Regions from separate parts of the Homo sapiens genome. Here regions 1 and 3 are each linked to region 2. Evidence: fine-mapped expression QTL. A gene starts in region 2. Each other region holds a variant in brackets. All regions are shown on one strand. Distances are between the middles of the regions.

Region 1 (8,182 bases), 120 kb before region 2:
CCAATCCTATGCCAGCTTTTCTGGAGCACCTTTGGGGTCCCTTTCCATGTATCATTTATTTTATTACCTAGCTTCCAACCAAAATTTGTTCCACTTCGTGTTTTCTGGTTTAAATAAATGAGTTCTATATTTCGACAGAACGGACAATGGGTTTCAGCAGATACCCATGATGTACATTTCATAGCTATCTACTTCAGCGCCTTTCTCAAATTTGCATATAACAGAAAATTTGTTTACCATAGATTTTAAAGAGGCAGTAGAGGAGCACTACTGCATAAATCAAAGCTGGGAGTGAAACAGGGGTACTCTAACAGGCCAAGGCATAATTTATCCAGATTTATTTTTCGTCAGACCACTACTCAACTGGCCATGAAAATTACTGTTCCTATTAGCTCTTCCTTCAGTCACCAAAAGAACCAAGCAGCTGCTGTATTGACAAAGTATTCACTTCTCACAGAGGTGGGGAGAAGCAGAAAAACTCAGATCTGAAGCCACTGGCCTGGGTCCATTCAATAAGCTATGAGAAATACCTGAGATAACGCTTGGGCTTCTGTTTGGAGCTACACGGTTTTTATTCTACTCTCTCACTGTACAAAATTCAATACCTTCCTGGCATTGAGTGGCAATAGCCCAAGGTGATAAGCAGTGAATCACAACCAACTTCATTGAGTGGTTTTTTGCAGCCTATAAATAAAATCAGAATCTTTGAAGCTAGTAAACCTTGTGAGGTCTGAGTATCTCAAGGTTATTCATTTCTGAACCTCTCTGGAAAGAGTATAAACACAATCAAAAGAACTATGGTTTATGATTCACAGAATTTCTTCATGCACAGAAATTCACCTTTTAATTATCAGAGCATTATACTGAAGCATTGCAGACCTTTAACTTCTCAGCCCCTGTGTTACCAATAAAAATAATAACAATAATAAAGTCAATTTTCCAGCAGTTAAGAAGTACAAAGGTGCCCTCTCCCTCTCCCTCTCCCTCTCTCTCTCGCTCTCGCTCTCCCCACGGTCTCCCTCTCCCTCTCTTTAAACGGTCTCCCTCTGATGCCGAGCCGAAGCTGGACGGTACTGCTGCCATCTCGGCTCACTGCAACCTCCCTGCCTGATTCTCCTGCCTCAGCCTGCCGAGTGCCTGCGACTGCAGGTGTGCGCCGCCACGCCTGACTGGTTTTCATATTTTTTTGGTGGAGACGGGGTTTCGCTGTGTTGGCCGGGCTGGTCTCCAGCTCCTAACCGCGAGTGATCTGCCAGCCTCGGCCTCCCGAGGTGCCGGGATTGCAGACGGAGTCTCGTTCACTCAGTGCTCAATGGTGCCCAGGCTGGAGTGCAGTGGCGTGATCTCGGCTCGCTACAACCTCCACCTCCCAGCAGCCTGCCTTGGCCTCCCAGGGTGCCGAGATTGCAGCCTCTGCCCGGCCGCCACCCCGTCTGGGAAGTGAGGAGCGTCTCTGCCCGGCCGCCCATCGTCTGGGATGTGAGGAGCCCCTCTGCCTGGCTGCCCAGTCTGGAAAGTGAGGAGTGTCTCTGCCCGGCCGCCATCCCATCTAGGAAGTGAGGAGCACCTCTTCCCAGCCGCCATCCCATCTGGGAAGTGAGGAGCGTCTCTGCCCGGCCGCCCATTGTCTGAGATGTGGGGAGCGCCTCTGCCCTGCCGCCCCGTCCGGGATGTGAGGAGCGTCTCTGCCCGGCCGCCCCATCTGAGAGGTGAGGAGACCCTCTGCCCGGCAACCGCCCCGTCTGAGAAGTGAAGAGCCCCTCCGCCCGGCAGCCGCCCCATCTGAGAAGTGAGGAGCCCCTCCGCCCAGCAGCCGCCCCGTCTGGGAAGTGAGGAGCGTCTCCGCCCGGCAGCCACCTCGTCCGGGAGGGAGGAGGGGGGGTCAGCCCCCCGCCCGGCCAGCCGCCCCGTCCGGGAGGGAGGTGGGGGGATCAGCCCCTCGCCCGGCCAGCCGCCCCGTCCGGGAGGTGAGGGGCGCCTCTGCCCGGCCGCCCCTACTGGGAAGTGAGTAGCCCCTCTGCCTGGCCGGCCGCCCCGTCCGGGAGGGAGGTGGGGGGGTCAGCCCCCCGCCCGGCCAGCCGCCTCATCCGGGAGGGAGGTGGGGGGGTCAGCCCCCCGCCCGGCCAGCCACCCCGGTCCGGGAGGGAGGTGGGGGGGTCAGCCCCCCGCCCGGCCAGCCGCCTCGTCTGGGAGGTGAGGGGCGCCTCTGCCCGGCCGCCCCTACTGGGAAGTGAGGAGCTCCTCTGCCCGGCCACCACCCCGTCTGGGAGGTGTACCCAACAGCTCATTGAGAATGGGCCATGATGACAATGGCGGTTTTGTGGAATAGAAAGGGGGGAAGGGTGGGGAAGAGATTGAGAAATCGGATGGTTGCCGTGTCTGTGTGGAAAGAGGTAGACATGGGAGACTTTTCATTTTGTTCTGTACTATGAAAAATTCTTCTGCCTTGGGATCCTGTTGAACTGTGACCTTACCCCCAACCCTGTGCTATCTGAAACATGTGCTGTATCCACTCAGGGTTGAATGGATTAAGGGCGGTGCAAGATGTGCTTTGTTAAACAGATGCTTGAAGGCAGCATGCTCCTTAAGAGTCATCACCACTCCCTAATCTCAAGTACCCAGGGACACAAACACTGCGGAAGGCCGCAGGGTCCTCTGCCTAGGAAAACCAGAGACCTTTGTTCACTTGTTTAACTGCTGACCTTCCCTCCAATATTGTCCTGTGACCCTGCCAAATCCCCCTCTGCGAGAAACACCCAAGAATGATCAATAAAAAATTAAAAATGAAAAAAAAAAAAAAAGAAGTACAAAGGTGAGCAGCAAAACATTAGCTTCAGGAAAACACTACAGATCTAAATTGTTTTTAAAATGATTAAATTGATTAAATGGAAAGAATAAATGTAATTCCTCATTATGCCACAATGAAATTTCAAAACAGTTATTCAACAAATGGCAAACACCTCTTTAGAAATCTGGGTAATTTGAAGTGGGGATTTTCAATTTGTTGGGGGCATCTGCCAAGACCCCCTTCTCTGTCCCCCAATACTTCCAATTCAAGGATGAGATCTGGCACTGCCATTTTGGCATCAGATGAGCCTGGCTGCTCTACCTCCCACCTTTGCTGGGCAAAAAATGGGCTGAGTCAATCCGATTTTTCCTCTCAGGAATTGAAAATACAATTGGAAAATGCTCAATGTGTTTCTCAAGTTGCTTCAATAACTGAGACATAAACTCAGAAGCTATAGTGCAGCCTGGTTTAGCCATGTGGAGTGAAAGCCAGTTTAGTGAGAGAAAGAAAGAAAACAGAATAGGGTGCTGAGCTAGCATTCTAATTCCTGATGTAAAATCTTCCTTAGGCCCAGCTGAGCCTGAGTTCCATAACCTATTAGAATTCTTTCAGTAAATTTTCCTTTTTGTTTAATTTAGAAGATTTCTCTTAATTTCAGTCTATTTTAATCAGGGCTGGAGTCACATAAGTATGGGATGAGAGGTAAGCAATGCTAGAATGATCTTTCTGCAAGTGAAAATAAAATAAGATAATCATCAAAATTCAGAGCCAGAAAGCCCTTTGATCAAAAGAGATGGAGCTGACGCACCATTTGAGAATTTGATTCCTATTTCTGTCATGTATTTATTATAGTATCTTAGTTCAAAACCAAAGAGCCTCAAGTTTCTACATGTCGAACAGGCAACACTTCCTTTCCAAAGGCATTTCCTGCTGTCCTCCCTGCCCCCAACCATACTGATACTCAGCAGGTGTCTCTTGCATCTTCCCTCAAGTGTTAATTTGCTCATGTTTAGCTTCTTCTCAGAAGCCTACAATGGTTTCCAACTGCTTCATATGTCAAATTAAAACTGATAAAGTGCTTCAACCTTTAGTTCTGCATTATCTAACCACTGTTGTTACCCATTATGCCTAGTTCAGTCCTAGCATCAGCCCTCTGTTCACCACCCATGGCTACAAGACTCCCACTTTAAGTTGAGAGCACAGCAGCTGCTGGTGCCTCCTCTCAGAAATGGCACATGAAGAGTAAAGAAGAGGAATCTTGGAGTCTAGA[C/T]ACTTCGATACCAGTCCTGATTCTTTTATTAACCTGTCATCATTTAATTTCTACAGGCCTGACTTCTCTATAAAATGAAGATGCTGAGGTTTGACCACTGGATTTCAGCTTTTTTCCTGCCCCAAATCATCTAAGAGGGATGGCAAGGACACATGAAAGATTAAGTAACAACTTTTTTTTTTTTTTTTGAGACAGATTCTCACTCTGTCACCCAGGCTGGAGAGCAGTGGCACAATCTTGGCTCACTGCAACCTCCGCCTCCCGGGTTCAAGTGATTCTCCTGCCTCAGCCTCCCAAGTAGCTGGGATTACAGGCGCGTGCCACCACGCCCAGCTAATTTTTTGTAGAGACAGGGTTTCACTGTGTTAGCCAGGATGGTCTCGATCTCCTGACCTCATGATCTGCCCGCCTCGGTCTCCCAAAGTGCTGGGATTACAGGTGTGAGCCACCACGCCTGGCCAATAATAACATTTTTAAAAAACAGAACAAAATATGTCACATCAACTGAGTAAAAAAATAGCCAGAAAGACATTGCTGTTGGCTTGGATGGCATCACAGCAGAGGTAGAACTTGGCTAAACTATGAAGGAAAAGAAGGACATGGATCAATGGAAGGGCTGCACTTATGTCAATTAAGCTTTCATTTACTTTTGTGTTGGTTGTTCACAAATAGTATTAATAGATCATTGGAAGAAACATATATTAAGAGACTGGACTGGAAAGGAAGAAACTATTCTAAACACTTACCAAACACATATTGAGAAGGTTCTTGATAAGGCTAAGGATAGGGCTAAAGGAGAAACTCAAAGACAAATGGACATAATCCACCACAGTCTAACCTCTGAGGGCAAGGACCATATCTGCTTTGCTCACACTGTGCTCCCAACCCCTAAGAGCACCTTGCAACAAATAAATATTTGTTGAAAGAATACAAAAACATAGCCCCTACCTTTAAAAACTTATGATTGTTTAAAGAAAAAAAAACAGAGAACAAAAGAGAGTATGTTGTCCATTCCCTTCGGGATCCCTAATAAGCCCGGCATCAATTTCACTTATGGGGAGCCCTCCAGGGGATAATAGAGGGAGGAATGTAAACTTCACACAATAACCATTTTATACAATAAATGAACAAATTCCACTGTGTCAGCAAGTAAACAAATCTGTCACTTGACTCATTCTCTATGCTTACCATTAGCTGAGAATGAGCCTTTTAATAGAAAAGAATAAGTCACTCCACAATGTTAAGCCCAAAAAAAACCCTGAAATATACATTAATTTACTTCAAAATGCCACCTCTTCTTAAGTTGATTTTCTCCTGCAACCGCCTCAACCACAGGCAATTATGTCACATGTGCCAGATCCATGTGGTCCAAATGACAGCCCCCCTAACCAAATGTATTACCATAGCAACAAAGGGACTGCATTTGCCATTCTCTAACTGCCAGGGCCTGATCAATTATTTAACATGCCTATACTACAGTGACAGTGTATAAATGATCATGTTCATTAGCAGCAAGAGTCAGCTCTCAGAAAATCACAAACCCCTGACAGCTAAATTGATCACAAAACCAAACACACTCTCCTTGACGGTGATGTTAAAGATCACAGTGTAAAGGGATGGAAGGAGAACAAACTGTTCTTAGTTTTAAGCTTCCACTTTAGAACTGCATTAGCATTCACTCTCCCAAGATCTTATTGTGAAAAAAGGAAGAAAGAATGAAAGAAAAAAGACACACAAATTGATTTTATACAAGCAACACGTTATCAAAAGTTGCTGAAAATAATATGATTAGATGAGAAGATTGGAAAGCCAAAGGACAAAATTTGTCTTAAGCTTGTTTGATGGTTTTGGGTTTTGTTTTTCTTCTGTTCCACTTCTGGGTTATTTCTCATTAGAAGAATAGGCAGGGAAGTGAAAAATTGGATACTGAAGGGAATTCACAGTAGGCAGCAGCCAGCAGTGACTGTCCTCTCTCCCAACCTGGTTAAACCTCCACTGACTTTCCACAGGGAGATTCCTGAACAGAGAACAACTGAGGATGTCCATTTGGTTCTGTGAGAAAGGAGAAATCATTTCATCAAGAATTAACCAGAGATTGAGTTCAGTCCAGGACTCTGACAATTCACTACACAAAACTTCAAAGCCAATACAACTAAAACAAACAATTCTATTTCACGAGCTGAATCCAGGAAGGGATTAAAGTCGGTTAGAGTGGCCCCCATACCCTGTATCCACAGTGATCCAGAAACTGGATCAGCACTGAAGGCTGGAATCAGCACTGGGGCTAGAAGGAAGGGCAAATAAATGGCTTTTTTACTCACTTCATTGTGTTCTTTCATGGAGGAAAGAGAGAAAAAGGGGACAGCCTGCCTAAAGATTCTTATTGATTTATAATAGATCATAGAGTGATAGTGAAAGTTTCAGACATCTAAGAGTTTTTATTTTGCTAAAAATAACCAACATCAGCCAGGCATGGTAGCTCACACCTGTAATCCCAGCACTTTGGGAGGTCGAAGTGGGAGGGTCACTTGAGCCTAGGAGTTTGAGACCAGACTGGGCAACATGGGGAGACCCCATCTCCACAAAAAATTTTAAAAATTAGCCAGGCATGGTGGCACATGTGTGTGGTCCCAGCTACTTGGGAGGGTGAGGTGGGAGGATCACTTGAACCTGGGAGGCCAAGGCTGCAGTGAGCTGTGATCATGCCACTGCACTCCAGTCTGTGGGACAGAGCAAGACCCTGTCTTGAATAAATAAATAAAAAAATACATACATACATACATACATACATACATACATACATACATACATACAAACTGACATACCCGGAAAGGAAGCCTCCAATTTACTGACAAATTAGAAGGCAGATATAACAGTCCGAATAACCCATTCTTATACAAGGTTCCTATGATACTGTTCTAGGTATAGTCCTTGGTCTTTGTGCTTTACCAAGATCTAGCTTCCTACAAGCTACAGCTATCAGACCCTGATTAGACCGCAGAGACGACTAAATAATTTATGAAAAGTGTAGTTTTCCAGTATAGTAGTCCTTCCATCACAGATATTAATTGTTGTTATGGTAAATGCAAGAAAACCTCTTAAAAGGTTATGATATACATTTATTTCACTGTTCATATGGACAAGAATATGAAAAAAATTATTAAATATTCATCCAAAATGACTGTTCCTCCCTTAAAATCCACCTTCCCCAAGAAAAGAATCACAAACACTTAAAATAAAATCTAGGGTAGCCTACATACCACAAATTGCTTCTCTAAGTGGATAAATTGTTACATAAAGAAGCTAAGCATTTACAAACACTTCATGCAGTGGTATAATTTTATTTATACACACATAAAATAAAAACATGCACCTCAGGGATCATTTACACAACTAAATGTCTTTCTGATTACCATATACAAAAGCTCAAGACAGATAACCTCTCACATCTGACAATACATAGGACATGTGTTATAACCACTGTTCTGTTTCCATAATTGAGTGAATACCTTTAAACAATCGGTCAAATATCTGACTCCCATTTTCAATCTTGCAACATGCATGCAAATACATGTTTACAATATATTACAGAACCCATGGAGAACACTAAGTTCTAAGAAAGCCTTTTTGAAGTTTTTGTTCTTTATACTTCTCTACTCTAATAATTTTAGTTACTAGTATAATAGTAACAATCCATGAATGACATTTAGAAGCAAAGTGAATTTTCCTCTGCCAGCTGACGAGGACTTCATGGCTGCTGGTCACAGTACTCACTCTACCTTCTTGTTAATAGTAGTTACTGTCATTTGTCACTGAACTAAAAATTAGAATATATTATGTAAAGCTAAAAGTAATGTTATACATATTTGTCTTGAATTTTGTTTATAAATTATTTCTACCACTTGCACTCAAGTAAAGATTAAACAACAGAAGTAATATACATCACAGTACAGTTTTTAATAATAAAAAATTATAAACTTAAAAATGTCCAACAATGGCAAAGTGATTCCATATGATTTATGGAACATTCATAGAATATACCACTACTAAAAATGGCACAAGACCAAAATAATCAAAGTAGATCAATAGAACAGAAAGAGTCACAGAAACAGACTCCCACACAC
Region 2 (8,182 bases):
AAAGAAAGAAAAAGAAAAGCCCATTTCACATCCAACCACTTCACAAAATGTAACAAGGAAAAAAGTGAAAGCATGGGCTGTAAATCAGAAATCCTGAATTCAGGTCTCAGTCCACAATATACAGGAGCAAAGAGTATGCCCATAAAAGTCCCTTATTATTGGCCGAACACAGTGGCTCACGCCTGTAATCCCAGCACTTTGGGAGGCCGAGGTGGGTGGGTCACCTGAGGTCAGGAGTTTGAGACCACCCTGGCCAACATGGCGAAACCCCATCTCTACTAAAAATACAAAAAAAATTAGCTGAGCATGGTGGTGGGCACCTGTAATCCCAGCTACTCAGGAGGCTGAGGTAGGAGAATCGCTGGAACTGGGAGGCAGAGGTTGCAGTGAGCCGAGATCACACCATTGCACTCCAGCCTGGGCAACAAGAGTGAAACTCCGTCTCAAAAAAGTCCCTTATTATCTCTGAACCTCATCTGCTTTCCTCCTGTGTAATCTAAACACAATGGCATCTACTACAAAATGGTTAAATCACAAGGCACAAACATGGTACATGAAAGCACTCTGTGAAACATAAAGCACTACAGAACTGTTCACTTCTGTTATTGTTTTCATTAAGAGATCCCTATAAATGAAGTTCCTGGAGTTTCTTGTCACTCTTGAGCACTGTTCCCCTACCTGGGCTAAGAACCAAGGGTTGGAAGTTGCTAAAAATAAGGATGAAGTAGATCTAAATTGTGTTTCAATGGCAGAATCTGATCCAGATCTTCACTGGGCCTACGTATCACCCTAGAAGACAGATGTACACAGAATAAAGATCAAGTGTCTAAACAGATTAAATAAAGCAATTTTGCTTTATATTTGCATGGAGAAAGGAGGTTCCTTATTAAATTTTCTTTATGAAAGTAATACAAGAGGCCAGGCATGGTGGCTCACACCTGTAATCCCAGAATTTTGGGAGACCAAGGCAGGCGGATTGCTTGAGTCCAGGAGCTCAAGGGCAGCCTGGGCAACGTGGCAAAACCCTGTCTGTATGAAAATACAAAAAATTAACAGAGTGTGATGGCATGAACCTGTGGTCCCAGCTACTCAGGAGGCTAAGGTGGGAGGACTGCCTGAGCCCAGGAGATCAAGGCTGCAGTGAGCCGAGATCATGCCACTGAACTCTAGCCTGGGCCAGAGAGAGAGAGAGACCCTAACTTTAAAAAAAAAAAAATATATATATAATTTCACTCCTCAGAGGCAATTCTTGTTTTTTCTCATTTTACCTCCATATCTCTACATAATATATTTGTACATCTGCTTCTTGTTTGCAGTCATTATCTATCAAGTTCCTATTAAAGAAAGAACTTAGCAGAGAAAGTATTTTGAACCAATCTTGGGAGGCAGAGTACAGAACTGTCCAGCAATGCATCACTCTGACTATGTAAAAATAAAACACTCCTTTTATTTCTAGTCTTCAAGTCCTCCATTAAAAGTCCTACACAATGTCTTTATATGAGAGCCAAGAAAAAAGGTAGCTGGGCAGTTGGACCTAAATTTTTAGACCACTCTCAATCACTCTCTGAATCCACTTCAGTGATGTCCAGTTTCTCTGCCCCTTTCCAGCCACCCTACACAGTTTAATCCTGTTCCTTGTCCTACAGGACAAATGATAAATAGGACCCCAAACTTAATTTATTTCAAGACAGGCATGGACATAATTCTTATGAGCTCTGCGGAAAGGGATTAACTGGAACTAAAAAGATATCAACCTTTAATTATGCGAAAAGTTACCTAAAGCCAACAAGTATACTGTATTAAAGAGTAAATTTATGGACTAAATATCCTGCTCAATTTCGGTCCAAAGAAGACCTTTGAAGTTCTCCAAACGTGGACTTCAGCTGTGGTTCACTACATGTGGACAGCTTCGGGGACAGCATCCTGCCTAGTGCCAGGTGTACAAGTGAACTTGAGGTCAGGCAGGTGACCCTGACAAGCAGGCATAATACATTAAGGAGAGGAAATCTTCCCTCTCATTAATCAACAGGATAAAGGTAATTAAGCAGGAATTATTTTTCAATGACCTATATAATTTCATCAGGGCTGCTATGACTATTAGCAGGGAGCAGCTGACTTCCTAATGAGATGAATTTGATAGCACAGCCCTTCCAGAGAAGCCAAGGGAGCAAGCCCAATCTATAGGGAAGCAACAATTGTTAGGCATTGTTTACTCCTCCTCCTGAAAGCTGTCTCTCCTTCTCAACATTTGGCTCTTTCCCTTCAGGGGGGTTTCCCTGTCCCTGGATAGCTGGGGCTGCAGCATCTGCTGAATAGTGGAAGCTAGATCTGCTGTGAATGGGTGGGTCCAGGAGGCTGGGACACTAATTCACTAGACCTGCTCATGTGATTCCCAAAGTCCCAAGCCAACAAGGCTACCGCCGCCTGCACCAACACCTCGCTCTGACCAGGCCTGAAATAAGACACCAAGGTAGTTCTTCCCACTCCCTAGCAGAAGCGGAGTTAACAAGGGACCTTTGTTGAGCCAGAGGAAACACAAACACATACACACTATCAATAATAACCACGACTTGAACGCAGTTTCATCACAGAATTTACGAAATTGAGCAACAGCTACCTAACCAGTAAGTCCTTACACCAGGAAAGGGCTGCAAACCTCAGAGGGGCACCGCCTCTGTCTCCTGTGTAAGCAAGTTGATTTACAGGGGAAACCTGAACTCCACATCTCTTTGCCTTTTCCTGTGCCTCCCAGAGGACCCTGGGACCAAGGAATGGGATGGAGGGCCCTAATGACATATTCCTTCGTCAAAACAAGCTGGCTCTCTCTCTCCCAGGGTCAGTCACCGCGTTACGCCCCGTCCCGGAGCCCGAAACCCTAGAAGTCACCTCCTCCCCCCTGCGCCCCCGCCCGACGCAGCGACCTCGTTTGGAACATCCCCAGCCGGCCCCCAGCCCAATGCCTGCTCCCTCAGCCCAATGCCCGCACCCCCTGCCCAGTTGGCGGATGCAGAGAAGGGACATTTCGACTCTCCCTCCTCCTTCAACCCTCTAAAATAAAAGAATCCCTCAAGCGCAAATCTCCGGCCAGCACAGCACCTACCTGTCCCCGGCCGTGGCTCCTCCTCCCCGAGCAGTGGGGCTCGCTGGACAAGTGTCCTCAGATAGTCCAGAAAGTTTGCTCTGCGGTCCCGGGGACGCCTGCGCGGGACCCAGTGAGGAAAGCCGGGCTGGCTCCTCGCACCTCGGGCGGCCGCCGCTCGAAAGTCTTGGCCCAGGTCCTCCAGGCCCGGCTCAAACTCAGGAGTGCCCGGGAAGAATGTAGGTCGTGAGAAGGTCGGAGCGCAACTTTTCGAAGGTGCGTCAGCCGCGGGCTGAGGCGCGTGGGTCACTGCCTCCCCCCAGCCTCTCCCTAGTGAGCGCGGGGGGGGCGGGGGCGGGGGCGGGGGCCGGGGCGGGGCAGGGGCGGGGGTGGGGCCCAACCTGCCTGGAGGCCTCGGGGAGCGCGCCCCGGCCCCGCCCCCGCCGCCGCCGGCCCCGCCTCTGCCGCTGGGACACGCCGCCGCCAGGTGCGCCGGGGACTTAGGCAGTGCCGCGCCGCACGGCCCGCGCCGGTTTCCAAGGTGAAGGAGGAGGAGCCTCTGAGGGAAAGTTTCCACAGAAACTTGAGCTGGGCGCAGTGTAGCACTCGCGCCCTTGGGGGCTAGCGTTTGGCCGGAGCTACACACTCTTTACTCACGCACGCACACCGCCGTACACAGCACAATCGTTCACCGTCCCGCCAAAGGCTCGTCTCTCGGGTTCTGCCTAGTGGAAGGAGTCGGACAACGCCGCACGTCACGGGCGTTTCGGATTTCTTGCTTCCCAAAGGTTTGACGGCGGCCACCGGCGCCCCGGCCCAGCTCTGCTTTCCTTTGCTGACTCCTTCCTTTAGGTGTGAATTTTAAAATGCTGATACCGCCCCAAGAGAGCTGAGTCAAGTGAGGCAAACGTTCGCCTGTTGTTCTCCTGACAGACTCCCTGCAGTGGGCAGGGGAAATGTGGCCTTGGCCGACATTAATGAAGTGCCAGGATGGAGGGAGGGGGCCTGCTGATTTGTTCTGTTTTACTTTTTAAGGGTAACTAGAGCGTTACTGGAGTCGTCTGTGGGTTTGGGGAGTATGTGGCGCGTGTGTGTGTCACACATTTCACTGGCAACTCCCGCCAACCCCTTCCCAAGAAATGAAGGCTCTAATGTGGGCAGTTCTGCAACAAAGGTGAAACTTCCCCAAATCACGATTCCCCGCAAGATGAGAGAGCAGGTGCAGCATCCATTTTCCCACTATCACGCTTGAGATGGTGGCTTTGGGCACTGCCGGGTGCCCCGACATCCTTCCCAGAGCCCAGCCTTCCCACCCAGGCCCGGCCCTGCGCGGCCGCCTGCCTTTGCATCAGAGACCGCGGCTGTGCCATTGCCAAGGTGGGCAGCGCCGCCTCGCTTCCCCATTCCTCCGTCTCCCACGCCTCTTGCGTGTTTGAGTCGCGAAGTGATGGACTTTAAATCTCAGAGGAGGAATGAGAAACTTGGTTAGTGGCTCTCTTGGCATGTTCGTAGCCCTGTGGTTGAAGTGGCTGAAACCTGCGTTGAGCCTCAGTCCAAGCAGCTGGGGCCACACCAGTTTGCAAAAGCGGATGTGGCAGTTTCCACCGCAGCAGCAGCCTGCTGGCGCCTCATCAGATTCTCCTTTGGAGGAAGTATCTTCTTCCCTTCATTCTCGGTGAATGGCATCCAGAGATAACCAAAATCAGGTGTATCTAGTTTCAAGTTCTGTCTTGCAACCGTGATAATTGGAGGATGCAAACTTTACACTTTCTTCTCTAGCTGTCTACCACCACTGCTGCGCTTGTGGATGACTGCAGGAACACCGGGTACTTGCCACAAGTATCTCTCCAGATTCATCAGCCTTTCACCTGTGACAAGCTCAGTCAAGAAGTGGCTCCTAAGTAAAAGCTGGGGAAGAACAAGGAAGATAGAGCTCAGAGTAGAAAGCTGTGAAGTTCTGCACAACAGGTCCCCTTGGCCTGCTCTAACAGTTGGAAGGTGGGGGAAGCATTCATTTACTCAACAAATATATACTGAGTGCCTTTTGCATGCTAGGCACGCTTCTAGGGGTTGAGGACACAGCAGAGAGCACAAACAACAATTCCAGCCCTCGTGGAGCTTACCTCTTCCACGTGGGAAAGACAGATGGTAAATGTATAAGGACAATATATGGACTGCTGTATGATTAGAAATGCTATGGAGAGGCTAGGAGTGCTGTCTCATGCCTGTAATCCCGCAGTTTGGGAGGCCAAAGGAGGAGGATCACTTGAGGCCAGAAGTTGGAGACCCAACCTGGGCAACATAGTAAGACCCCCTATCTACAAAAAGTTTAAAAATTAGCCAGGCATGGTGGCGTGCACCTGTAGTCCTAGCTATCCAGGAGGCTGAGGTGGGAGGATCACTTGAGCCCACTGCATTCCAGCCTGGGTGACAGAGTGAGACCCTGTTTTGAAAGAAAGAAAGAAATGCTGTGGATAAAAATTAAGCAGAGAGGGTACATAGAAAGTATGAGGGGTGCTATGTTCGGAGAGGGGTGATGATCAAGGAAAGCTTCTGGAGGAGGTAACATTTGAGGAACGACTTGAGGGAGGTTAGGGATATCTGAGCAGACAACTTCCCAGGCAGAAAGCATAGCAAATGTAAAGGCCCTGAGGCAGGAGTATGCCTAAGTGTACTAGGAGCAATCCAGAAGGCACCATGAAAGAATGGAGAAGATGAAGTCAAAGAAGTGAAAGGTGGGGGTGATGCAGATCAGGTAAGGCTTTTACTCTGAGTGAGTTGGTTGGAGCCATTGGAGGATTTTGTGTAGAAAAGTGACACTTTCTGACATTGTAATTGGATCACTTTGACTGCTGGGTTAAGAATAAACAGTAGGGTGTAAGGGTAGAAGCACAGAGACTGGTTAAGAGGCTACTAAAATAATCTAGGGTCAGCCGGGTGCGGTGGCTCATGCCTGTAATTCCAGCACTTTGGGAGGCCAAGGTGGGTGGGTCACAAGGTCAGGAGATCAAGACCATCCTGGCCAACATGGTGAAACCCCGCCTCTACTAAAAATACAAAAAATTAGCCAGGTGTGGTGGCACGCACCTGTAGTCCCAGCTACTCAGGAGGCTAAGGCAGGAGAATCACTTGAACTCAGGAGGCGGAGGTTGCAGTGAGTAGAGGTTGCAGTGAGCCGAGATTGCACCACTGCACTCCAGCCTGGGCGACAGAGCGAGACTCCATCTCACAAAAAGATAATAATAATAATTGAGGGACAAGAAGATAGAGATGTGGACCAGAGAAATAGTGGTAGAGATGATAAGCTGATGGTTTCCTCACATTGGATGTGGGGTATAAAGGAAGGAGATGAGAAGGACTCTGAGGCTTTTGGCCTGGGCAGCATAAGGATGGAACTGCTATAACAAAGTTGGAGAAGACTTCAAAAGGAGGTTAGGGTAAAATCAAGGCAGGAAGGAGAGGCGCATAATTTGAATGTGGGCAGCGTAAGGACGGAACTGCTATAACAAAGTTGGAGAAGACTTCAAAAGGAGGTTAGGGTAAAATCAAGGCAGGAAAGGAGAGGCGCATAATTTGAATGGTCTTCAGTTTCTTCAACTTATAAAATGAAAGTAATACCTACTTTGTTAAGGTTGTTTTAGGATGACAAATTAGCATAGTGAAGTGTATAACACAATGCCTAATACATGATAGACACTTAAGAATGTTAGTTCCCTCTCTACAAATATGAATTTCATTCATATCCATTATGCCCTCTGGGAGTGAAACAGACTCATTCTTTTGAGGAAATAAGTCTTGCTAAAGGTAAAGGGGCTGTCTCCTTCTCCCATTCTTGCCATATGACACTGTCTGCTCTCTCTTTGTCTTCCACCATGAAGACAGGCATGGTAGCTCATGTGGAAGCTTCCCGAGGCCCTCACCCAGAAGCAGATGCTGGAGCCATGCTTGTACAGCTTGCAGAACTGTAAGCCAATTAAAACTCTTTTCTTTATAAATTAAAATAGATAAATAAAAATAAAGGATAAGCAGATGTGGTGGTACGGGCCTATAGTCCCAACTGCTTAGGAGGCTGAGGCAGAAGGATCAATTGAGCCCAGGAGGTCGAGGTTGCAGTGAGCTTTGAGTGCCACTGCACGCCCACCTGGGCAACAGAGTGAGACCCTGTCTCTTCTTAAAAAAAAAAAAAGTTGGAAAATATCTATTACATGGAAATATATTTATAATATTGTATAAAGTAAGTCTACTATAAAAGTAAGTGTGTAAAGTAAGATTCTCTTTACAAATATTAATAATGATTATCTCAGCCAGGCATGGTAGCTTATGCCTGTAATCCCAGAACTTTGGGAGGCCGAGGCAGGTGGATCACCTGAGGTCAGGAGTTCGAGACCAGCCTGACCAACAAGGTGAAACCCCGTCTCTACTAAAAATACAACAATTAGCTGGGCGTGTTGGCAGGCGCCTGTAATCCCAGCCACTCGTGAGTCTGAAGCAAGAGAATCACTTGAACCTGGGAGGCGGAGGTTGCAGTGAGCCAAGATTGCACCATTGCACTTCAGCCTAGGCAACAAGAGTGAAACTCCATCTCAAAAAAATCATAATAATAATAATGATTATCTCAGTACTAGGATGACAGTTTATTTTTATTCTCTGTGCTTTTCTCTACTTCCAAGTTTTCTGCCATAGGAAGGTATCACTTTCTCTCAGGAGTGGAATTGCTGGATGATAGGCTGTATATACAATGAGATTTAGTTGATACTGCCAAACAATTTTCCAAAGTGATTATACCAATTTATGCTCCCACTGACAACATATAAGAATTCCAATATGGAGCAGTGCGTTTTTTAACAGCATCATCCAGTTAAACAGCAATTAATTTGAACCTACTGCTTTAGAAGTTAATTAAGCAAAAGTTAAAAATAAGTATATTGGCTGTAAATGCATATATTAGTAACAGTAGCCGTTTCTAAATCATGTTTTTTATTAATGTATTTCATTTTATTCTTTTTGTTTTGTTTTGTTTTGTTTGAGACGGAGTTTCACTCTTTGGTCCAGGCTAGAGTGCAGTGGTGCAATCTCGGCTCACTGCAACCTCCGCCTTCCAGT
Region 3 (8,182 bases), 83 kb after region 2:
TGTAGTGAGCTAGTTATATTTTTTTAAAAAACAGCTTTATTGAGATATAATTCATGTACCAAAAATGTATCCCTTATATTTACAAAATTGTGCAACCACCACCACTTCTGATTTTAGGATATTCTGATCACCTCAAAAAGAAACCTTATACCCATTGGCCATCACTCCCCATTCTCCCCTCCCCTGGCAACCACTAACCTACATTTTGTTTCCATAGATTAGCCTATTCTAGACATTTCATATAAACAAGATCATAGGAATCTTTTGTCTCTGGCTTCTTTAACTTGACATAATGTTTTCAAAGTTCATCTTTTTTTTTTTTTTTTTTTTTTTTTTGAGACAGAGTTTCACTCTTGTTGCCCAGGCTGGAGTGCAATGGCGGGATCTCAGCTCACTGCAACCTCCACCTCCCGGGTTCAAGTGATTCTCCTACCTCAGCCTCCTGAGTAGCTGGGATTACAGGCATGCGTCACCGTGCCTGGCTAATTTTTTGTATTTTTAGTAGAGATGGGGTTTCACCATGTTGGCCATGGTTGGCCAGGCAGGTCTGGAACTCCTGACCTCCTGAACTCCTGGCCAGGCAGGTCTGGAACTCCTGATCCACCCGCCACAGCCTCCCAAAGTGCTAGGATTACAGACGTGAGCCACTGTACCCGGCCTAATTGGGTTTTTAAACAACTATTGTTGTTTTTTATATGTTCTGAATATAAGGTCCTTATTAGATATATGATTTGAAAGTATGTTCTCCCCTTCTGTCTTTTCACTTTAATAATCGTGTCCTTTGAAACACGAAAGTTTTAAATTTTGCTAAGTCCAATTTATTTTTTCTTCTGATATTTATGTATTTTGGTATCACATCCAAAAAATTATTTTTTCAACCATGGTCACAGAGATCTAATCCTATGTTTTCTTCGAAGAGTTTTATAGTTCTAGTTCTTACATTTAGGTCTATGATCCATTTTGAGTTAATTTTTGCATATGGAATGAAATAGGGGCTCAAATTCATTCATGTGCATGTGGATATCCAGTTGTAAAGACAATTCCTTCCCTGTTGAATTATGTTGGCACCCTGTCCAAAGTTATATCTTTATTGAAGAACTTACCAAGTTTTGTCTCGTTTTGTGTAAACTGTATAGACCTTCCTCTCTCATTGGAGGACAGGGAACATGTTTTGTTCTTTTGCAATGAGAAGACATATGTGAAAAGCACCTACCATAGGATGTGATCATGGATATTTCTTTCCTTCTTTTGAGTCTCCCCACAGCACCTAGAGTGGTACTTGGCACACAACAGTTACCATAAATGTTTGCTAATTGTAGAGTGGGCTTGGGCATGCACCACCCACCCACCACAAAAATGTGGATTCCCGAAGCTCTAATTGGCTGGGAAACCCAGAACAACTTTCACGCCTTTCCAAATTAAGATTCAATGGCTGGGCTCAGTGGCTCACGCCTGTAATCCAGCGCTTTGGGAGGCTGAGGTGGGTGGATCACGAGGTCAGGAGTTTGAGACCAGCTTGGCCAACATGGTAAAACCCCGTCTCTACTAAAAATACAAAAATTAGCCGGGCGTGGTGGTGCATGCCTGTAATCCCAGCTACTCGGGAGGCTGAGGTAGGAGAATCCCTTGAACCCGGCAGGCGTAGGTTGCAGTGAGCCGATATCGTGCCACTGCACTCCAGCCTCGGCAATAGAGTGACTCTAGTCTCAAAAAAAAAAAAAAAAAAAAAAAATTAAGACTCAATGACAGTAGAAACTGACTCCAATGGCTTAATGAAATGGTACTGTTGGTCAAGGTAGGGATTTTTAAATTATTCATCCTTGAAGGGAAGTGACAAATAAGGTTTCACTTACCAAACATTTAAAACAACCCTAAAGGTCCAGAACCTTTGTTTTATTGTTGTTGGCTTAATTTCCAGTTCTCTAAGTGTCTACTTATTTAATCGCTTATGCAGTAATAAAGTTTTAACTTGTGGATTTGACCTCAATTCCACAGAATCGATTGTGGTTCTTATCTGCTTAAAAGCGGAAAGATTTTCTCAGGCGGCAACAGCCACTATTGAAAAGGCAAAGAAACAGCACTCAGGTGTGGCAGGCAATTCTATTTTCAGTGACCCTTTTCTCCCTTTCTTTTTCTCTCCTACTTGCTGAACATTAGGAGCTCTTGGTAATCTCTCAGAAATAGAGCAAGACGCCAAAGATAAAGGCCTGTTCATCGCACTCAGGAATTTCCTAAGGTTTCATGTCCAGGTAATATTTCTGCCTGCTACTTGGGTATCTTTTGGTGAAATTCCAGAATCTTTTCCTCTCTGTGTGAAAGTAAGTACGTGCACCTACTGAACCTAAGATGTGTATTGTGCAGGTACACACAACTTTGGTTACACGGTTCTTTCCAGCTTTGAAAAACTTTCTTAGGGGTAGCTCACACAGCTAAGTGCTTCAAATTACAGTTTCTGACTCCAGAGCCAGTGGTCTCTCCACTTCCCCTAGTTGCCTCTCTACAAATAATCACGTATGGGTCTCTTTAACACATTTCTTCCTGTTCTTCTAGGAATTGTAGCCATATCCTAGCCCTAAATGAACTGGAATACAGTGAGGCTTGATTTATTATTAAACATTTTTATTAGACTTTTTTTTTTTTTCGAGAAGGACTCTCGCTCTGTTGCCCAGGCTGGAGTGCAGTGGTGCGATCTCCGTTCACTGCAAGCTCTGCCTCCTGGGTTCAGGCCAGTCTCTTGCCTCAGCCTCCCGAGTAGCTGGGACTACAGGCGCCCGCCACCACGCCTGGCTATTTTTTTTTTTTTTTGTATTTTTAGTAAAGACGGGGTTTCACCGTGTTAGCCAGGATGGTCTCGATATCCTGACCTCGTGATCTGCCCGCCTCGACCTCCCAAAGGGCTGGGATTACAGGCATGAGCCACCGCTTCCAGTCTTACTAGACTATTTTTAAGAACAGTTTTAGGTTCACAGCAAAATTGAGCTAAAGGTACAGAGATTTCCCATGTACCCCCTGCTCCCACACATGCATAGCCTCCCCCATTATCAACATCCCCCACCAGAGTGCCACAGTTGCTACAATTGATGAACCCACATTGACACCTCATAATCACCCAAAGTCTATAGTTTACATTGCGGTTCACTCTTGGTTTTGTACATTCTTTGGGCTTGGACAAAGGCATCCGCTATTACAGAATCATACGCATAGTAGTTTCACTGCCCTAAAAATCCTCTGTGCTCCCGCAAGTCTAGGTTTTTAAGGGCGAAAAGAGAGGGAAAGAAAAAAGTGTGCATTGCAGAGGCTCGACCCAACTCCAAGCCAAGTTTGTTCCAAAGTTCAGCAGCTCCCAGCTGTCCCATCTCTCCCAGTTCGGCCCCGGTCGGGTTCCTCCTCTTTTTGTTTAAGTGTCAAACAAATGGGTTTCCTGTTGACACTGGAATATCGTGAAAAGGCAGGAAGAGGCCAGGCCACCTCCTCTTTCCCCTCTTCCTATCCCGTTTATTTATTTTGCACACGTTTGTTTGGGTCGAGCTGGTGTTTCCAGCGT[G/A]TGTGGCTGTGGGGCGGCCTTAGGGGCCGATAACCCCTCCCTGAGGAGGCGAGGCCAGCCCCGAACCCGCCCGATCCGCGGTGGAGCTCTACGGGGCGGGGAAGGCAAAGAGGAAGGGGGAAGAGAGCGGGAGTGGGAGTGGGAAAGGCCAGGGATTAAGAGGCCGCCGGGACGCCGCAAGGAGGCGGGGAATCGGCTCGGCCCGCGCCCTGCCGCTGCCCGGCCGGCTGCAGGTGGAGTTCGCGGAGGTGGCCATTTCCACAGCCGCCGCCGACGCCTCCTCTCCGGGAGCCGCCTTCCCCCCGGCCCGAGGGCGGTGGCGTGGGGCGCCGGGTGCAGGCGTTCTGGGGCGCCGGGGCCGCAGCTCGCTGGCCATCCCGCGGCTGCGCCCCGCGCCTCGCCCATGGCTGAGGGCCGGCGGCGGGAGGACGAGGAGGAAGAGCTACGCGAGCGCCGCGAACTTGGTGGCCAGCGCCGCGCCCGGGGCCGTGCGCTCTCGGGCCACTCGGCCGCAGGTGAGAGGCGCGGGGGACGGGGCGGCGGGGACCCAGAGCTGCGCGCTCTGGGGCCGCTCGGGTCCTGCCCCACACAGCGGCAGCTCCTTCACGCGCCGGGATGGGACCGGCTTCTTTAACTCTCAGAGGCCAGACTCGGGGAGGGTGGCATTTCCATCGCCATCCTCACTTTCCGGCCGAGCCCGAGGAAATTCAGACCCGTCTTTAACTGCTAGTGGTCGTACAGCTGAAACTCAAATTTTCCGTGCACACTAAATCCAGGAGCTGCTGGCTTGGGACTTGTGGCCTGGTTGATGACTTATCTCTGGATGAGTCAGAGGTCAATGGCCGTCTCGGTGGACAACGACACCTTCCGAGGGGTTTGCCTGCGCCGCCGCAGCCAGGTCAGAGCACGTGCTCATAACTGAGGCAAGTCCTGTTTCGGCGTCCCTTGCACTTCGGACCTGTGACCCCCCTCCCTCCCTCCCCCAGCCGCCGAGCTCACCAGTTTTCTGTAGGACTTGTTTTCGTTAGTTGTGAGACCCTCCCCCACGCAAAGAGAAGTCCAGAATATAGCATTCCAAAAGGCCATTCATTTGGGCTGAGAATCATTTTCGGGCCTGTAATTACTTTTATGATACTGTGTTTTGGGTACACAAAAGCGGCACGGATCAAATAGTTTGGCACATTAGTGAAAGAGTGAATAAGTGTAGATCCACACCCCTTCCCTCTTCCGGGCGGCTTTTCAATCAAACATAATAGAGAGGACATTCTTTGGCCTTTGGTTCCAACTGGGTAATCCGAGTTATCTGAAAACAAGAGGGAAGAACAAACCTAGGGGGACTGGCAACAAAAGGGAGATAGGGAAGTGAGAGAGTCGGAGGAGAACGATTCACTGAGAGCCTCATTATAAAGTGGAATATAGCGAATATTCCATGAAGTGGAGAAGCTTTTCTGTGTGACTCCCTTAACCACTAAGAGAAAGTTGGAAAAATAGAGAAGATATTGTATCTGTGCGGAACAAATGGAGGGTAGAAAGTAGGATGAAAGGAAAACTTGAGAAGAACATCTTGAAGAAATAGTCAATTTAATGCCTTTGGTAGAATCTTGGAACATAAAAATAATTCTCCATGCTCATTATTACAACTTTTCATCAAAATAAGGCATTTGGCTGTCTATATGAACACCAGTTTTGAACATAATTGGTAATTTTGTTCAGTGTAAACCCAAACCTTGTGAAATAATGAATAGTTGCTGGATATAAGTGAATATTTCTTGCAAGAGTACAATGAAAAAACTTTACAAAGATATACCGCCATGCCTGACCTATGGATTTAAACAGGGTAGGCCACCTTAGATTCCTGTTACCTTCAGCAGAAAGCTTCATTCTCACAAGAGACTGTACAGTGAAGACCTGTTTTGGAGTTCAGACTAGATGTGATCCAGATGTGTGTTTATCATTTAGTTGCAATATGTGTATTTATTCCAAAGCTGGTGGAAATGACATTTTGTAATTAGTTTTCACCAGTTCCCTAATTTCTCAAGGTTGACAAAGGCTTTTCTAGGTTCTTTGATAATATTTTGCTGAGACATGACATTGTGTACTTTTTGCATTCAGTAATTGGTGTTTGTAGTTTTCTAACCATTTATATGCCCTTTTTCCATTAAAGGGTGTGAGGACGATGTAATGGAATGAGTAAGAGGGTTAAACTTGCGATTTTTGGATTTATTTCTTTTAGAAGAAATTATTTAATAGTTTACATTTCTTTACAAGCTGAGCTCCACTTTCCCCTTATTAGTTAACATGTTTTTCAGACACTAACACATTCCTTACCAAGCTTGGGCATTTGTTAGTTATGTCTGTGCTAGATGTTGCTCTCCTCCAAGTGAGAGGGTATGAACTGACGCAGAAGCTTCATGTTTTTTCTGCATCACCTTTTCAGTTTTTCACTTTTCCTGTTCTCAGTGCTCCCTCCTTCCCTTATCATTTTACAATCTAAAGAGTTTCCTTTTCTCTGATTTCACCTAGCTTGATAACCATAAACCTGGGGTTTATGGACTTAAGGTAGTCTGTGAACTCTTCCTTCTCTCCCTGATAAATTTTGGAGTGGTTGTGTAAGTGCATTTATTTATTTTTGTAACTTACATACAGAAGAACATATGAAATTTGTAAATTATAAAGTAAAAACTCTTGTAACTCATGCTCAAGTCAAGAAATAGGATATAGTCAGTTCCTTAGAAATGGATTCCCATCCCTCCTAGACTTAGCCTCCTCTCTCCCCTAGATGTAACCATTTTTTTAACCTTTGTGGTTATTATTTCCTTTTCATTCTGTACAGTTTTACCATACACATATGCATCTCTATAAAATATTGTTTAGTTTTACCTTTTTAAGATCATTTAAGTGGAATTGTCCTGTATTTTATCAACCCAGCAGAAAGCAAGTAATGACTTGAGATTATGAAATGTCTGGAATGAGTTCTTTTCATTCAAAGGCCAAGAGCCCCAGGCAGGTTCTGAGCACAGGACAGTCCTTGTAGGGCATCCTTAGGAAATAAATGTGTGTGTGTTTTTAAAATGATGTTAAGAAAATTGGGTTTGATTAATCACAGTTTTATTTTACAACAAAGGATGATAGTTGATCTGGTGCCCAACTTCTTTATAAAATGTATTTATGTTTCCCAGCTTTTAAAGTAATAAAATATCTTCAGCATGATTCTAAAATAAATAAAAAGCTCAGTTGAATTTTTTTTTTTTTTTTGGCAGAATTATAGGCAATCAAGTACTGAGGTCAATTCAGGAAAGGTTTTTTTTTTTTTTTTTTTTTTTTAGGCAGAGTCTTGCTCTGTCGCCCAGGCTGGAGTCTAGTGGCGTGGTCATGGCTCACTGCAACCTTCACCTCCCAGGTTCAAGTGATTCTCATGCCTCAGCCTACAGAGTGGCTGGGATTACAAGTGTGCACCACCATGCCTGGCTAATTTTTCTATTTTTAGTGGAGACGGGGTTTCACCATGTTGGCCAGGGTGATCTCGAACTCCTCCCACCTCAGCCTCCCAAAGTGCTGGAATTACAGGTGTGAGCCACTGCACCTGGCCAGTGAGGGTTAATTCTGTAGTAGCTCATGATGCATGAGATTAATAAGCAGTTATAGGAAAGTAAATGGGGAGCAGAGAGTATTCCATTGTTTGGGTTTCATGTGCTGAGGCTAAGGTGTCGTAAATCTGGCACTATGTGAAATATTTACTGTTGATGGTGGTATCCAAGATCCTTAATTGCCTGACCTGACAGAGAGTGGTAATATGAAAGCTAGACACAACACCTGAATTCTTGGGGGTGTCTCACTAATCCACCAAATGCCCATTACAAACAAGGAAGAGAGGATGTGGGTACACTAATCCAGTGGTTCTCAAACTTTTGCCACATGTATCTGAATTGCCTGAAGGCCTTGTACACGCTCAGTATCTGATCACTTGGTCTGGGATAGGGCCTGATAATTTTCATTTTTGACACATTCCCAGATAACATTTATGTTGCTGGTTCAAAAGGATGATGCACTTTGCAAACTCCATGTAATTAAGAGAGAAATCACACCCCAACACAGATTGTTAAATTCTAAGAAATAGTTCCTTTGGCTAATTTGTCCTTTTTAGTAGATCAGATGAAAACCCATGAGATAAACATGGAGATTTCCACAGGCTAACTTATAGGACTTAGTTTCCATTGTGGGTTTTCTCGGTAGCTTAAAGGATTTCATGGTTGATTTATACAGCCTGGCATTTATGATCAACTTCATTTTTGTTTCTTGGTTTTTTTCTTTCTGTTATTGATTGCATATTCTTCATCTCTATCTGCACAACTGAGATTGGTGTGTTAGTGCCACTGTGTTAGTGTTAGTTAGTGCTAGCCAAGGGCAAGAAGTGGAGGGTGGGGGGAATAGGCGGACGAGATTGGGTGACCAACTCTTCCCAGTTTCCCAGGACTTTTCCAGCTTTTAAAACTGAAAGTCCCCCATTCATGGAAACTCCTCAGTCCCAGGCAAATCAAGGATAGTCACCCTAGAGGAAGGATAGCTTGGGTGGGGGAAGAAGGGAGGATAAAGGCTACTGATAATGTTATTTATACTAACATCCCTGCTTTAGTCCAG

What was found. PIP is the estimated chance that this variant, and not a neighbour inherited with it, causes the effect.
Region 1: its variant is fine-mapped to the expression of FHIP1A in whole blood (TOPMed, PIP above 0.99).
Region 3: its variant is fine-mapped to the expression of FHIP1A in whole blood (TOPMed, PIP above 0.99).

Annotation. Positions count from the first base shown.
Region 1 is chr4:151,520,366-151,528,547 of GRCh38, reverse strand. The region is part of intron 3 of FHIP1A (FHF complex subunit HOOK interacting protein 1A); the gene reads right to left. Among named protein-coding and RNA genes, the nearest start is that of FHIP1A, 120 kb to the right of the region's middle. RefSeq lists an enhancer at 3,497-4,061. The variant C/T (reference allele first, on the strand shown) is at 4,059.
Region 2 is chr4:151,404,384-151,412,565 of GRCh38, reverse strand. It overlaps FHIP1A (FHF complex subunit HOOK interacting protein 1A), which reads right to left and starts at 3,390. Exons shown (of 14, transcript NM_001109977.3): 1 at 3,101-3,390. It overlaps FHIP1A-DT (FHIP1A divergent transcript), which reads left to right and starts at 3,674. Exons shown (of 3, transcript NR_183963.1): 1 at 3,674-5,383; 2 at 6,958-7,043. RefSeq lists silencers at 3,431-3,600, 3,721-4,193 and enhancers at 3,420-4,119, 4,120-4,819, 4,651-4,960.
Region 3 is chr4:151,321,118-151,329,299 of GRCh38, reverse strand. SH3D19 (SH3 domain containing 19) reads left to right here and starts at 3,695. Exons shown (of 20, transcript NM_001378122.1): 1 at 3,695-4,059. The coding sequence starts at 3,948. The variant G/A (reference allele first, on the strand shown) is at 3,545.